2 separate regions of the Homo sapiens genome follow, and region 2 is linked to region 1. The links come from fine-mapping of genetic effects on gene expression. A gene starts in region 1. The other region holds a variant in brackets. All regions are shown on one strand. Distances are from middle to middle.

Region 1 (8,340 bases):
AATCCCCATAACTATTTACATACATGCACTGGCAATAATGTATGTTGTAGTATCTTTGAAATAAACAGACCATAATTCAAGGGTTGCTTTTACAATAAGTGAAATTAATGCAGCCACTGGTTGAAAATGTGTACATACAAATCTTTAAGTTAAAATATGTTAGATTATCAACATCTTTTTTCTGTGTAGCTAAAAGATGGATATTAAATTTAATATAATACAGCATAGGTCATTTTAAAATTGAGAAAATTATTTAGGACAATATGTGGTTATGTTTATAAAGCTACATCAAGCTACATTTCAGAATGAATGTGTCAGCTGATAAAAAGAACCTGCTGTGATAAGACCATCCTCACTGAGAAATAAAAAAAAAAAACAAAAAACCAACAGCATGTGAAATCAGGTTACTTGAAATTTATGTAACTCTACACCAAGGTATTATGAATATTATACAATCTCATTCATTTCCACTCATGTCCTGCTCTTCCATAGTACACTCAAGTTTATTTTACATTTCATGGAGACATATTACTTTTTCTAATGATTTTTTTTCTTTCTGTCAAAGTACAAAGCATACCAATATGGTCATTTGCTCCAATATAGCCCAACGGATGGTATTTTTTTATTAATAAAATGTGGAAGTAACTAGTATGTTTTTATGGGGAAAATTACAAAATAAGTTTACCAAAATAGACTGGATCACTAAAACAAGAAGAATGGTTTGGCATATATAACTTTTAAAAGTATGGTAACAAAACAAACTGTTAAGTTCCATTTTACCTGGTATTATCTGTTCCTTCTGATTAAAAGAATTAGATTTGAGAAAATCACATCTATCTCTTGAGTACAAATTAGCTATCACTTTTTAGATGACCATGCCATTCTTCAGTTTTTGATATAGCTTCCAAACAGAAGTTTCAAAATGACTCTGCCTAGCAAACACATCACTGTACTTTAAACAGAGTGATGTTTTCTATCCCATATTTTCGGAAGGTTAAAGCACACACAGAGGCAAGAATCATGACAGACAGCAGATCCTAAGAGAGTTTATTAACTCTTTAGGTAGATTAGGCAACACTTGTTTTTAAACTAACTACAAATCAAAGTCTTTTTTTTTTTAAATGATTCAACATTACTACCATGCTACCAACAGATACATAAGGGAGAGAAAAAAAAAAGGGCTGCCTGTTCCGAACTCTGCTTACCTAAAATTTGCATCTAGTCACGTGCCATTTTTAGAAGATGTCCCCTTCTGAGATAATCAAGATACTTGTACAACAGGGAATTTAGACTTAATTACCAAACTTTAATACCATGTTATATAGGTCAAGTGAGTATGTATACCTTTCTCCAGAAACAAAGGAATTCCGAATAATAGGATTTCAGATTTAATTGTAGAATTAGCAAAATGTTTTGAGAATGTCATTTACCGCAACACAAATCAATATTAAATGCTTTATGCAGGAAGCACACTTTCAGAAAATGGGCCGTAAAGCTTTCTGGGATCCGACCCTAATTACTAGAGCAGGCTCTTGCCGTTTGTCTCTCTCTTCAATTATTTACAGGGCAAAAAAGCCAAATGGCATTGCATTAGCTACATTAAATGGTATGGACTTGGTTTCTAACTTACTAATGGTATATAAAAATTACTAAGGTAAATGTGCCTGTAGAAACATGGCTTTTTTTCTTCCTCACCTGAGTGGGTGTATTTATTATTCATATTGTTAAGTGTTGAATAAGCTGTCCTTTAGGCACCCAATGCTGCATAATTTAAACAAGTGCATTAAATATATAAGATATCTAAAAGGTAGTGCATTGATTATGCCACAAAATTTCTTTGAACAGCTACCATGTAGCTCACAGAAAACTAGCATCTCCTGCAAGTTCCTAAAACAAATACTGTGAGAACTACACAGAGATGAATAAGGGGTATCCTTGCTGCTACCATCTTGCTGCTTTCTGGTGACCCAAAGTAAAGTGGGAATTGGGGGAAGTGAAAATGAGGCCCGGGATTGCTAGGACATTTCTGGTCTCGAAACTGACAAGTGTCCTTTTTACGTAGACAAATACAGGGCTATGTCGTAAGTACATGAAAACGTGGACCACACACATTCTAAGAAAGAAAAGGCTGAATCAGAGATTCTTTGTACCAGGCCGGAAATGCCCAACTACCAGCAAGCAGAGCATGATTACAACCTCCCAAAGAAAGTTCGGACACTGCATCCATACCTGATTCTTTTGTGATCTAGAAGGGCACCCAGAGTTGTGATAGATGTTAATGGCTGAAGAAGGCTGCTGCGTCCAACTTCCACCCTCCCAAATTCTGGCGGCTGCTTCCAAAGCAGTGAAATTTCCAGTCTTCATGGCCCAAATAATTTTTTTAAATGAGTTCGGGAGGCATCAAATTCTTATTGTAAAAATAAGATAGGCCCACTAACAAAGTACCCAGGGTCCCTAGAAAGCCAGGCGCAATTTGTATGGCTACATGTCATCAACTGTTGTTACCCAAGAGTGTGCCGAGGTCACTTTTTAAAAAGCAACATTGGAAATCGATCTGTGGCAAACATATAAGCTAGTTTTGTTTTTGTTTCTTTTTTAACCAAATACGAAGTCACTTCTTTCTCTGCACTGAAATCTGCCCATTGTCCCTCCTTTGCAAAACCTCTAGAGATTAGAAGGGACATCAATGAACGCGAGTGAACTTTGGCCACTTTTCTACCCAAAACACCAGCGTAAAAGTAGAAATCAGTAACCAGGTGAAGTGCCACACCGCACAAAGATCAGAGGCGAGGGGCGGGCGCTCAGGGCCGGAGGCGGGGAGGAAAATATCCCGGCCCCGCCGCCCCTCCAGCCCCAGTCATCGCGTGCGCGGGAGGTGGAGGGGCGTCCCTGGGGGGCGGGAGGCTCCGCGCCACGGCGAGGGGAGCGAAGAGTTACAGCTTACAGGGCGAGGCCCTTGGAGAAGGGGTCGAAAAGCCGGGCCACCAGCGGATCCAGACGCGCACACCAGGCGACGGCCGCCGGCCAGCCAGGGCTCGGCGAGGGGCGCCGCTCGACCCCACGACCCTCCCCGCTGGCCGGGCCAGGAAGGGGCTGGTGGCTCTTTCCTGTCTAGTCTCTCCCCCCGCGGCTTTCTGTAACCCGATCCCCGCACTCCGCTCCCAGGGAAGCCGCCGCCCCGCGCGCCGCCCGGCTCTGCCCAGGCCAGCGCTATAGTTAGCAACCTTCCAGCAACTCCGCCCGGCGGTGGCGGGGGTTCGCCGCGCGCCCCCCTCCCCAGGCCTGACCCTGCGCGCGTCCCCGGGCCCCCTCCTCCGGCCGTCACCTCTCCCCGGCGCCCCTTTACCTTGGCTTGCAGATACTGGGGGTAATAGTAGGTGGCGTACTGAGGGTACATCTGCTGTTTCCACACTTTGCCCATGAAGCTGGAAGGGAGCCTGCCGTGCAGGGTCGCGGACACTTTGGGGTTTCCAAGTCTCGGGCTCTCCTGCCTCTCCCTTTCCGGCGGCGGCGGCAGCGGCGGCGGCGGCGGCGGCTGCTGCTGCTGCCGCTGCTCCACCTCCCAGCCGGGACCAGACGTCCTCCTCCTCCTCCTCCTCTTCCTCCTCCTCCTCCTCCTCCTCCTCCTCTTCCTCCTCCTCCTCCTCCTCCCAGGCAGAAAGAAAGACACTGCAGAGCGCAGAGGGCACCCCGGACAGGGCGCTCCCAAGGAGTTTCCTCCCGGAGCCCGACTGCTCCGGGGCTGCCAAGGGCTGGCGCGCTGGCCGCGGTCCGCTCGGGCGAGCCGGCTGCGCGGGGCTGAGAGGTGATCAATACAAGTGGAAAGTGCGGCAGCGGCGGCTGCGCTTGGTGCCAGGCGGCATCTGGGGTGGGTGCGCCCGATGTGGAGAGAGGAGAGGGGCTGGCGTTCCGAGGCCGTGGGGGAAGGGCGGGCGGGGGCGGGGCCTGGGCGCCGCCGAGCCCGGGACCCGCTGGAGGTGAGGGCTGAGTTTTAACCACTCCTCACCTCCCAGGCTCGCGGTTGGACGGGCGGAAGCCCTGTGAGTCCAGATCGCTTTGTGTCGGGGGTGGGGAAATGGGAGTGGGAGTGGGGGTGGAGGGGGAATGCGGGGGGACCCAGCTTAAGAACTGCAGGGCGGGCACCTCTTTTGCTTTCCCGAGTTTTTATCTTCGTAAGGGGGAGGGGAAATAAGGGAAAAGAGGAAATCTGATTAATCGTTCACTTCCCACCGCCCAGTAATTTTTTTTCACAAGGGAAGGAAAATGATTTAATGCCCAACAAAGCTGGAGTCTGGACACCTGGGTTCTGTTCCTCCCACCCACCCCCGACCCGGGGCCACAAGACTAATCTAGGTGACCTTGGGAGGGTTAGCGTCCTTCGGTTTGGTTTTCCCAGATGTGAGACGTGAAATCATGCCCCTTGCACAAGGGGAGGCAAAGCACATACATACATACACACACACACACACACACACACACACCCCTCACAACATATAGACGGATCCTTCTAAGAGGGGGATGCCGCAAAGAGGCAGAATGTTATTAGAGGACACAATATAGACATCAGCTTTTCTCTGCCTCTTTCTAATGCTGCCAGACAGTCTGTCAACTCCCACTCAGGAGCAAGGAAACTCCCTGAGTTTGGAATATTTTAAGGCCATTTTGAAAGTCACGCTGGCATATTGTTGCAGTGTGCTTCAGTGACATATAAAATCAATCTCTCTTTCTGCCTCTCTCCATCTCCTAATTGTCACAGCTCTAGACAGCCTCAGACCAGCAGTGGTTCAGTTCACTACATAACTAGATATAATTTAATGGAATTAATTGGTCCCCGAAGCTGCCTGCAGAAGACTTTTATATTCCAGCTCAAAAAGAGAGCTAATACCAAAATGTACATACGGATAGCATAGGTAAGCAAGCATCCTCAAATTAGGGTTCCGGCACATCTAATAAAATGTAATAAAAAACTGTGTTTGTTATTAAATAGACCTTGTTTACTTTGTCATTTTGGTTTTTGAAGAGTCTTTTGTTAATAGCACAAGGTAAATTAAACTCAACTGGAATGCATTATTTTGTTAAACAGTTATTATTTTTATATGATAACATTTTAAAATAGGTTTAGTAAGATACTTTAAAACAATGACAAAATAAGGACCTGAAACCCTTATAATCGTTCTATGGTTTAGACAAATTTCTAGATCTTACATGTTTGACAAAAACAAAATAAATATAAGTATAGGTGAGAACATTTTGGCTCTGCCAGGAGGCAAATCATGTCCCTCTCATTTACCTATGTAAAAGCCTATAAGGAAGCTAATATTTACTATGTCTGCTATATTGTAGGCACTGTTGAGGTGCATGCAGACCTGAAAAGTGGAATGGGTCACTGTCAGACTAGGGGAGCCTAAAATATTTCCCATATTGTTTCAATGTGGGGCCTTTTAATGTTTTTAAACAGGGAACTGACATGAACTAAATTGTGCTTTAGGAAGACTAGGAATGATGGTTTGGAAGAGTGACAGAAGGAAGAGAAGTAAATCGAGAACAATCGCAGAAGTTCTAGGTTTGAGGTAATAAGGGAAACTACCAAACTTAGACTGTTCTACTTACTGTTTTTTCTGGATGATGGAAATTCAGCCTGTTTTAGAGAGCCCAAAAGCAGACCTACACTTGTATAGACACTTGATTTATGACTGAGTTGGTATTATAGCGCAGTGGAGAAAGAATGAACTTTTCAATAAATGATTCTGGGTCAACTGGCAATCATATGGAAAAAATGAAATGGGAGCCCTGCCTCACACATACCAAGGGAGGAGGGTGGAAAATTGAGGTGAATCATGACCTGGATGTGAAAAACAAAAGTATAAAGCTGTTAGAAGACAATATAGAAGAATACCTTTTTGACCCTGAAATAGGAAAGATTGGTTAAATAAGGGGAACAACAGTGTAAGATTGACAGATTTGACTGTTAACATTAAGAACACTGGTTCATTGAAGGATTTTATAAAAAGCGATAAAAGCCACTAAATACCTGTAATACATATAACACAAAAGGTTAGTATACAGAATGTATAAATAATCAATAAAAAAAGAGAACTTGTTAGAATATGAACAAAAGAATGAATGTGTATTTCACAGAAGCACAAATATTCAGAAAACATATAAAAAGATGCTCAAGTTCATTAGTAATAAGAGAAATGCAAATTAAAATAATACTACTATACCATTTCATATTCACCGGATTTGCAAAAATTAAGAACTCTAAAAATATTAAGAGTAGGTAAAAATGTGGAAGGGGGGAAATCTGAAAACACTGCTTCCTGGAGGAAGTATAAATTGGTCTAACCACCACTTTAGAAAACAATTTGGCATTCCTGAATTTCATTTGCATGTTTCCTACAACACAGTAACAGGTACGTACCTTAAATAAATTATTTTATATGTGCACCAGGAGAAATATACAGGAATGTTCATAATATGCAGAAAATAACTCAAATGTCTACCAACTGTAGAGTGGATTAAAAAGGTTTTAGTATATGCACACATTGGAGTCGTTGCAGAAACAGAAATGAATAAGCTGCAGTTAAAAGCATCAACATGGATCATTTCAAAACTGATGTTGAATGAAAAAGGCAAGTCAACAGAATGCATAAAGCATGATTCCATTTGTATGAAGTTCAAAAACAGAAAAAATAACTAAACAGTATGTTATGTAAGAATAGGTGCAAGAGTAGTTTTTAAAAACTTTTATAAGGAAAATCAAAAGTAAAATAACATAAAATTCAAAACAGTATCTCTTAGGAAGAAGAAGGATGAAGTATTTAAGGAGGGGCCGAAGGAGACCTCTAGAAATAGTAATGTTGGATGTTTTGCTCTGGGTTATTGATAACATGAGACTACATTTCAATACTTTTGTTTTAATGTTCATAAGTTCTTTTGTATTTTTGCTGTATTTCATGTGAAAACATTTTAAAACAAAATCAGCTTTTAATTTTAAGCATGATCATTTTCAAACAAATACAAAAGCAGAGGAACCCTCTGTTCCTAACATCCAGCTTCAACATTCATCAACATTTTGTCATTCTTTTTTCTTCCCTCTTCTCTCTTTCTCTGTCTCACACACACACAAACACACACACACACTTACTTTTATTTTTCTAGAGTATTTCAAAGCAAATCCCAAGCATCATATTTCACCAGTAACTATTCTACTACCTTCCTCTAACAAATAACTTTTTAAAACATAATACCATTGTCACACCCAAAAAATTTAACAATAATTTGTTAATGTGAGCTAATACCCAATTCTTGTTCATTTTCCACTGTTGTCTAAAAATCGTTTTTTGTAGTTTGTCTATTTAAATCAGGTTAAAACAATGTCCACATATTAAATTTGGTTGATATGTCTCTTAAGACTCTCTTAATAAAAAAGTTTGTCCCCATTCATTTTTAAATTTGATATTTACTTGTTAAAGGATTTGGGTCATTTGTCCTGCAGAATTTCCCGCATGGCTGATTGCAACCTCATGGTGTCATTTGCAATGATGGTTAGTTCTAGAGGTTTGATTAGATGCAGATTCACATTTTTTTGACAAAGAATAGTTCCTAGATGGTACTGAACACACATAGGGAATGTGATGTGATGTGTATCCCATCAGAAAACCATAATGTCTGGTTGTCTCATTTTTAGGGATGTTAAGTTGATCAGAAGTTCAGGCATTATCAGTCTGACTTGTTCATTATAAAGTTCCCCATCAACCATTCACAGGATGTTTTTCTACATTCATGAGTTTTACCTCAATCCATTTTTTTTTAAATTAGGAGTTACAAATTGTGGTTTTTCTCCTTTTATAATTTCTTCTGCACTTACTAGTTAGAAATTGTCTACGGAGAAGAACTTTCTGTCTTCAACTCTTTGGTTAACTTAAAATACAGGTAGCAAAGGAAAGGTAGGATAAATTTCTCCTATTTATCAATTTTTAGGAGAATGAGTTGGTGCCCTAGGAAACTCCAAAGCTAACTAGTTTTAAGTAAGATTCTGGATTTGTGGATTTTAATGTACTGTATTTGAATTGCTTCAACCCATTGCAGTCATTATTCTTGTTGGTGCTCAAATTGTCCCATTTTTGGGCAATAGGAGCCCCTTCAAATTGCCTCATGTGAAAAAAAAAAAAACAGACTCTAATAGTCTTGACAGTTTTTTTTTTTTTCTTTTGGCTTTTTAGCATGATAAGATTGTCCCAGGTTCTTATACGGTTCATACCCAGATCTGAGTCAGCTATCAGCCATTTCTCTTTAAAAAAAAAAAAAAGTCAGCTTGCCTTAAAAATTTTAAATAAT
Region 2 (8,340 bases), 220 kb before region 1:
TGTATCTCTCTGTCACACAGGCTACAGTGTAGTGGCGTGAACATAACAGCCACTGCAACCTCAAACTCCTGGGCTCAAGCAATCCTGTCTGAGCCTCCCAAGTGGCTAGGACTACAAGTGTGTGCCATCATGCCAGGCTAATTTTTAAAATTTTCTTGTAGAGATGACTCTTGCTATATTGCCCAGGCTGGTCTCAAACTCGTGGCCTCAATCAATCCCCTGGCCTTGGTTCCCAGTGTTGAGATTACAGGCATAAGCCACTGTGCCCAGCCTCTCCTTGGGTTTTATACTTATTTCATAGTTTTGATCATACTGTATCTACAGGTCTGTTCCTAACACTTTTTATTCACGTTATATCCTAAGCATTTTCCATGTCATTAAAATGTCCTCATTTTAAAATGACTTCATATTATCTTGCATGTCTTTAGCGTAACTACTGTCATTTAAAAAATAAAGCAACATAGGGATTTTCACTGGCTACAAGTTCTAAGAATTGTGGTATGTCTGAGAAGTCAAAAAGGAACCGGCAGGGCAGGGGAGACAGGTGAAGTCCCAAGTTCTTCCTCCGGTTTTGGGTTTTATCCTGAGTCAACTGTGGTACATCTGGAAGGTGAGTTGATGATGTGGAGTGACCAGGGCTGACGAGGAAGAGTTAAAGCTGGAAGGAATGCTCAACCCAGAGAAGAGCAGAGCCATGGAGTCACGTTTCCACACTTGAAGTATGACTGACTGACTCTGTGGCATCCCGGTTGGCAGCACTAAGGCCGGTAAGTGGGAATTTCAAAGCCACAATTTGGACTCCTCTGCAAACAAGTTTGAGAGCTGTTCCCTAAAGCTACCTGATGCCCTGTGAGGCAGGCAGTGCCTGGTCCCTGGAGGTGTTCAAGTAGGGCAGGTGGCTTCAAGGATACTAGAGGATAGGAAATCCCTGCAGTCTGGTTTATGGTCTGGGTCCTGTGTGAGCACTGGAATAGCCTACATCAAATCTTAAGTCTCTCAGAGTCGCATAAAACAACCGAATTCTTTAATTCAAAGCCACGTTTTCAATTCTGAGCAGCCCAGAGACCTGCCATCGCTTTCTCGCGCCGAGTCACGTGGTCTGGCAAGGCGCGCGGTTTCCTCCCTAGCCGCCCCCAGCTGCCCTGAACCTTCAAAGTCACATTTCAGTCACTCCCCAGTCTGACCAACAACGCTCACAATGAGGGCGCTGCCAGCACAGGCGACGGCCTGCGCTCCAGTCTTACGAGGAACCCCAAATTCAAGACCCCTGTGACCCAGGCCTGTGTGCCCCGACAGGCTAAACCTCCGCCCAGGGGCTTCCCGATGTCGGCTGCAGCGGGTCTGGGTTTTCGGCCTGCAGAGCTCGCGTCTGACGGCTGAGGAACAAAACACCCTCCCTCTAGCGGCTCAAGCGCACACACCCTCTTGCCTTCCGCAGCCACCGAGCGAGTCACGGGAGACACTCTGGAGCCATTTTGCGGGGCTGGAATTCCTTCGCCCGGCGGAGCTCGGCGCGCACCCGTCAGCTGTGCCGAGGACCCTGCGCCCGGGGGGCCCCGCGGCCACGTGACCCCCATCTGGCTCTCGGCCTGGACTGAGGGGGCTGAGCTCATCGCGTTGCTATTCGAGGGGCAGAGACTGCCTGGCCTTCCTCAAATCCTGAGCTCCCGGCTCTCCTCCCTCCCCCACCTACTTGACATCTCAGGCTTTTTGTGGAAGGGGCAGGGCGATTGAGAGGTCGGTGACCTTTGTCCCAATGGCGCTGGCTCTTTTCCTTTTTGGCTACCCTAATGGAATGAGGATATAATCAGTCATATCTTAACATTCATTGAGCCCCGGCTCAGGCTGGGAGGCACTGCCTTTCTCCTAGTGAATTTTAAATCAGTATTTGTGGGATTTAAGCTCCAGCGGATAAACCTAGAGCCACTGGCCATGAAGGGTGTGGCAGTGGGGTGAAAAACGGGACTCCCGCCTCCACTCCCTGGCTTTCCTCATTCCAGCCACTATAGAGGGGAAAATACGTAGACCACAGAGCAACGGCCACACCCTCTTTCCTCTCCTCCAACCCCAGAATTCCACTTCAGTCTCAGAGCTTTCAGCTAGGTGGGGTTTATCCCCAAACATGCCACAACCCCTCTAGTTATATGGGAGCGGTAACTGTGAACCACCATCGCTGGCTTGATCCTCCCTTTTCCGTGGATTGGTGCTCCTGAGTATGTTTACCGGTTTCAGTACATAACACAGCCAGATAGAGGGCCGCGGACTTCAGCGGCGAGAAGCTACAACAAAAATAGGGTGAACAAAAACGAAGGTGCCCAGGAGCCTGAATTGCATTTCTTTCTTACCTTTGGTCATAGAAAGGAGCACTTAGGTGTTTGGCTGGAACGCAAAGTGAGACCAGAGCTTACATTCTTAGCAGCCTGGGTTTGTCTCGAGAGGCCATGCTTCTCTCCTCCCTGACATTTTGCTCTCAGAAGCACCAGTTAGCATCAGAGGAATGTTGTTTCCTTCTCTGAAACAGCCATCAAGTACCAGCGATTTCTTGGCTCCGGCAAGTTAAGTGCTCTGACCCCTCCCTTATCTAACTCACCCCGCACACCATCCACATGGCAGGGGACGCAGCCAGAAATGGAGCGGACTGCATCTTTTCCTTGCCCACTCTTTTTATCACCATGACAGAGCCACTGGACACCAGGAAATAAATACTGAACCACCACACTAAAACGTTTACTCCACTTTGGGCAGAAGGAGCCTATTTTGCATATTAAGTGCCTCCTATAAAGCAGTCAAGTGAGGGAAAGAGGAGTTCTCGCTCCTCCGTGAATGCTGCACGGGAGCCTCCAGTCGGGAACAGCTGAACAGGTAGCTCTGAAAGAGGACCTTGGTCATAAACGCATAGATAAGATTATCCCGAGGTTCTCGCCCACATGCTTCCTTACCACAGGTGGGAGGGCTGCTGTTAGGCTGTCTTCCTTGCTGAGCATTGACAAGCAATGAAATAGTTGAGGCGTAGCAGCAAGAAAGGAGGAAGAAAAAGGGCCTGGTTTTTTGGTCTTTAAGAACAGACCACTAGTGGTGTATTTTGGGCTGGATATTTGCTGAGCCGACCGTTGACGTGCTGAGCTGACGGTTGACGTGCTGAGCTGAGGGTTGACGTCTCTGGTCATTACACAGATTTAAATAACCAGCAAAAGTGGGGTGGAAAGGTTTTTCCAATTGTTTTCAAGGAAATGTATTTTGAGGATATATTGAATCTGACATAACTTTCAACTCACTTTCAAACCAATCTACTGAGCTGAAGAAAGAGATCAGAAATGAAATGAAATTCTGATATACACTTAATCGACTTAAAAAAAATTGACAGGAAAAATAAAATTTCAGATGTTTTTTATTCAAAGGTTCTCAAAAGAAATAAAACAGAAAAGCTAACAATCTGATCAAATGTACAGTTCAAAAATGTCTTTTGGCGTTTAACAACAAGTCCTAGGAAAGAAAACTACAGAGTTATCTTGAACCGGACAAATAAGTTACCACTGGCAAGTCTGTGGCACTAGTAAAACAAAAATAAAAAATTAACTCTCTTGATCATATAGATATCTCTATGAAAATCTTTTTTTTTCAATCTGTACAAAAGGTCTTTCTTCATAAATTAATTTTTTTATAATTTAATGGCTGTCTACTATGTGATGTTTAACTGATTTTTTTTTTTTTATGTACAGAGGTTATGTTTCCCAAATCTTACCCAGACGAGTATGGCACTTAGTTCAGACATTTCTAGCAGCAGATTTCCCCTCCCCTCTAACCGAGCTATCAAATTTCTGTCTTAACTAATGCAAAAATATCAAGTAGTGAGAGACCCAGGTTTATAACTGTACTAGGTACACAGAGGGTGCTGCGTTCAGTCTGGACTTTCACAAAGCAGTAATATTCCAGGGAGCATAGAACCAATAATACCACAACTTTAAAAAAATGAAACAAAAACAAAAACAAAAACACATTTCTCTTATGACTATGTAATTTTCACTAGAATCTACACTTCTCAGAGCAGCAAGGACTTTTGAAACTATGAAATGTCACTGACATCTATCATCAAATACAAGCATAAAATTTAAGAACTAAAAAATACTTGAAAGAAATAACTGCTTAGCCCTAGCTCCTGAGCTAGGAGGATTTGGTCTGTGGAAACAGGGAGGGCCAGCAACCTGTCCCAGCACAAAAGAAAATAGACTCTGAGGTAGATAACTGATCATACACAGCTGACCAGACAAGTACACAGTTTTGGAAGACAACTTAATTTACCATTGCTTTTAAAACATATGCAATTGCCTTAATAAAAGAGCTTTAATAACAGTGAATTATCTTATATGTACTAAAGTAGAAATAACTGTGTATTTATGAATCAGGAATTTCATAGTTTCAAAATTGGTTTTCTTTACACTTGAACACTTGTAGTGATGATGTAAAGTGTGGCACTGCTTGGATCCAAATCTTCCTTCATGCTTTTTTGTTTGTGTGTGTCCATACATCAATTAAAATTATAAAACCTAAATGCAAAGGTACAAAAAAGGCACATTCTCCTAACCGCAAACTGGTCCGGCAAAAATAAAGAGCACAGAAGATGTGATGCTGAGACAAGTTGGAGCTACTGGTTACTGGCTCTTCGGTCTTTGGTGAAGTTACCTTTAAAAGTGCCAAGTCATTTTTATTTTTCAAATTTACCTAATAGAGAGAGAGAGAGAGAGCTAGTAGCCAATCGTTTTGCTTCTATTCGTTATCTCAGCTTATGTTTGAAGATAAATCCTTACTTTTAGCTTTTGCCACTTTGTTGCAATAGCAACATTTTTCGGTTTGCCAGATTTCAGGCATAATTCTCATTCTAAAGCACTATCATTAGTATAAAGGAAGGACAAAACATTCAGTGACTCCCCTCCCCCACCCCCATCCCCAACCCCAACACTACCTACACTAAATCTAGTACATCAAGTTAG[C/CT]TTTTTTTTTTTCCTGAAAAAAGGCAAAAAAGACTTTACATTGCATCATACAGCAGATATCCTAAATCAGTCAAACTATCAGAGGAAACTGTTGGCGTACAGCCTTACAAACAATTTACCCTAATAAAAGTTCCCCAGTCAGAAAATGTGTTTCACACAAAACATTTTTCCCTTCTTGCATTTCACTACCTTACACATTATGTGAAAAATCATTAAAAACACCTACTACATATTTAAAAAAGCCAAAATTTCAGCAACTTTTATTGACTACCTTTTAAAAGCCCTATGCTGCTGTTTTACAAGGCATAATAGACCAGCTCATTTGGTCAAAGCATTCTACATCATTAGTTTGAACTAACTTTTACTGAAACAGCTACAGCATCAAAAGAGTTAAGGCAAATTGGAATTCATAGAAAAGGATAAGACACTTCACACTACGTTGAAAGAAAGACAGAAAGCTAAGAAAAGAGACACTGACGGCAACACTGAATTACAGCAACACTCGCACTGCAAGCACAGAACACCATGGGTGAAGTCGGACTATTTAAACTTCAGAAAGCCCATTTCATACAGCTGGAAAAAAAAAACACAAATTAAACACAAAATGAACAAAACCACAAAAATCCGGTCATGCACTTGGATAAGTCTTCATGGTCTTTGTGCATACCCAGAAAATTGAAGTTTTCTTTTCTTTTTTTTTTTCTTTTTCTTTTTTTGCATCATAACATTTGATAAAAATCTTTTGTTTTTGTTTTTTGTTTTTTTTTTTTTACTAAAATAAACCTGTTCGGGGGAACAGCTACTAGATGAATTTAAGGGTTTTATGCACCTTATAGAACTTATAGCAAAAATAGTTTTAGTTGATTTCATTATAAATAACGTTTTCAAGAACCTGTGCAAAACTGTCAATAATTTCCTAAAGCACAATTGATCAGAAAAATCCATGATTGTTCAGCCTTCACACCCTTCTTCATGTAAGAACACCTTTCTGTACATCTGGAAGAGAAAAATAAAAGACAAATGCTTTTGTAGATTTGGTGTGAAACACTACAGAGCTTTGTAATCTGTTTCTTGTTTTAAAGAGATATGTGTTTGAAAAAGGTTATGCTCATCACTGATGGTAGACTGATAAATGCAGACTCTGGAACTGATGGTTACTTTCAATGCCTGTCACATCCAGGACTTGCAAAATACTTTCTTTTCTAATTTAGAGCCAAATTCATTTGGGTCTCTAAAGAGTGACTTTATGAAATCAAAAATACATGTTATCACCAGGGCAATCCAGAAACCAAGGTATTCTATATCACCAGGGCAATGCAGAAACCAGGGTATTCTAAGTTCTACACAGCTATTTTATTACAGTCTGCATGGTAAAGTGAAAAGTTTTGAAATTTGTGGTTCAAGTGAGAGTTGGGAATATAATCTTTCAATCTAAGGATATTGACATTTATCTAAATTCATAATCAAGATGTTGCTAAACTTGTAATGCTAGATTGAGCAACATCTTATGCTATAGGTCCTCCAGTTTCTGAGTATTAAAGTAATATGATATAGGATACTTGTATTATAGAACAATTTTGGTTCTTGGTGTTCTCTGATGTTACAGATTTTTATTTTTTTCTTTTTAGTGGGGAGAGTATACATTTGGCTTCAGTATAAAGCATTCTCTTTAGACAAAATGATTAATCTTAAATTCATAAAATCACTGATTTTAATATTTCAACAAGACTAGATGCCTTGGCCACGATTAAAGCAGTATGATAAAATCCGAGTTATCCCAATCACCATTCTGATTTTAAAAAAAGCCCTATAGATTGTGCTTGATTTGAGCCCCCCAGTTATGAAGACCTTTCCCTCATACCTCACAGTTACTTATTAGGTTGAAAGGTATATGGAGAATGGTCATTAGACGTCTCGACAGCCACCTGCTGTTGACCACTTGCCTCCTACAACAAACAAAGCAGAATGGATGAGACATGTTAGTGAAAAAACCTCAGCTCTGCTACTTAGGCCTGACTGAATCCAACAGTGCCTTAAAAACAGTTACTCTTTAAAGTAAATTTCTTCACGTCATGTAGAGCTTTCAAGGTTAATCATTTCCCTAAGCAGCTGGCATGTCTAACAGACCCAAAGCACCTCCCATCCAAATGTTTATGACTTTCCTATTCTTATCAAGCTACAGCATATCAAACAAATCTCTTACCCTCTTATCCCCTGGGGACAGATGTGATTTGGAATTCAGTATTTTCAGATTTTATAATCTGAAATGTGGTATGCATATGCTGTATATCATTTAATGCCTCCAGTAGGGTCTAGGGCTGCACCTCATAAGCAAACATATTAATAGTTCTACACTGGAAGCCATGAAGCAGCACAGTTAAGTGGGATCAAGATTTTGTCTCATCTCAATTCAGGTTGAGTTTTGCCATAGGTCAGGTTTTATGCTAAAGTAGTTACAAAGATAATTTTTATTTTCAGATTTCTTTTTGGGTTTCAGATTGCAGGTAAGGAATTGTAGGCTCTGGTAACTGTGGTTGTCAGTAATTGCACAAACAGAAGTAAAATACTACTACCACCACCACCACCACCACCACCACCACCAACACCTACTACTACTACTACTGCTACTACTATCACCACCACCACCACCACCTCCACCAACAGGCCAGAGTCCTATGATCCTTTCCTGGAATTGGAACCTTTGGGATCTGCCTAGTGGGCAAGATCAACTGGATTGATACATTTCCTTGAAATTTTAAGGATACTTTGCAGGAAAATGCCACGTTTTCTCTCTAACCATAATTCAAATGCTAGACTTCTTTCTTTCATATCAGTATCTTCCATAACAAGAACAGTTATCTAGCCATACTAACAGCCTCTGTAAAAACAGCTATAGCTTCTTCTTCATCCCTGTAGCAGTTTCAAAACAGCTTTCTCTTTTCCACTAAGTATCTTAACTACAACTGATTTCTTTTCGTCATTATTAATTATCATTGATACGATCTTTAGTACTGGGACTGCAAACTCCAGATTTATCTTATTATGTCTGTAGTATCATTTTATGAGAGACAAGACAGAACGTCCGAGGGGTATGAAAGGCACTATAGGCTTAGAAAATATTTCTGGGAGTCTTAAGAGGTGTGGCCTGGATGTTGTTACCCTAATTTGTCATGATCATAGCTCACTGTAGTTGCAAACTCCAGGGCTCAAGGGTTCTTCCTGCCTCATACTCCTGAGTAGCTGGGACTACAGGTCCATGTCACCATGTCTGGCCAATTTTCAAACAATTTTATTTTTTGTAGAGATGGGATCTCACTATGTTGCCCAGGCTGGTCTCTAACTCCTGACCATA

Which allele goes with the higher level. Alleles are on the strand shown, and positions count from the first base shown. SD is a standard deviation of normalised expression in the study named.
As copies of C replace CT in region 2, the expression in monocytes after LPS of the gene that starts at base 3,865 in region 1 goes down (moderate effect, 0.56 SD a copy in Fairfax 2014).

Evidence for each region. PIP is the estimated chance that this variant, and not a neighbour inherited with it, causes the effect.
Region 2: its variant is fine-mapped to the expression of RBMS1 in monocytes after LPS (Fairfax 2014, PIP 0.95). The same link has a PIP of 0.9 or more in B cells.

The regions. Positions count from the first base shown.
Region 1 is chr2:160,489,943-160,498,282 of GRCh38, forward strand. RBMS1 (RNA binding motif single stranded interacting protein 1) reads right to left here and starts at 3,865. Exons shown (of 14, transcript NM_016836.4): 1 at 3,347-3,865. The coding sequence starts at 3,421. RefSeq lists an enhancer at 3,406-3,926 and a silencer at 4,113-4,292.
Region 2 is chr2:160,268,781-160,277,120 of GRCh38, forward strand. It overlaps RBMS1 (RNA binding motif single stranded interacting protein 1), which reads right to left. Exons shown (of 14, transcript NM_016836.4): 13 at 6,850-6,934; 14 at 3,371-5,984. The coding sequence ends at 6,857. It overlaps LINC02478 (long intergenic non-protein coding RNA 2478), which reads right to left and starts at 3,115. Exons shown (of 2, transcript NR_103775.1): 1 at 2,940-3,115. RefSeq lists an enhancer at 1,323-1,932. The variant C/CT (reference allele first, on the strand shown) is at 4,989.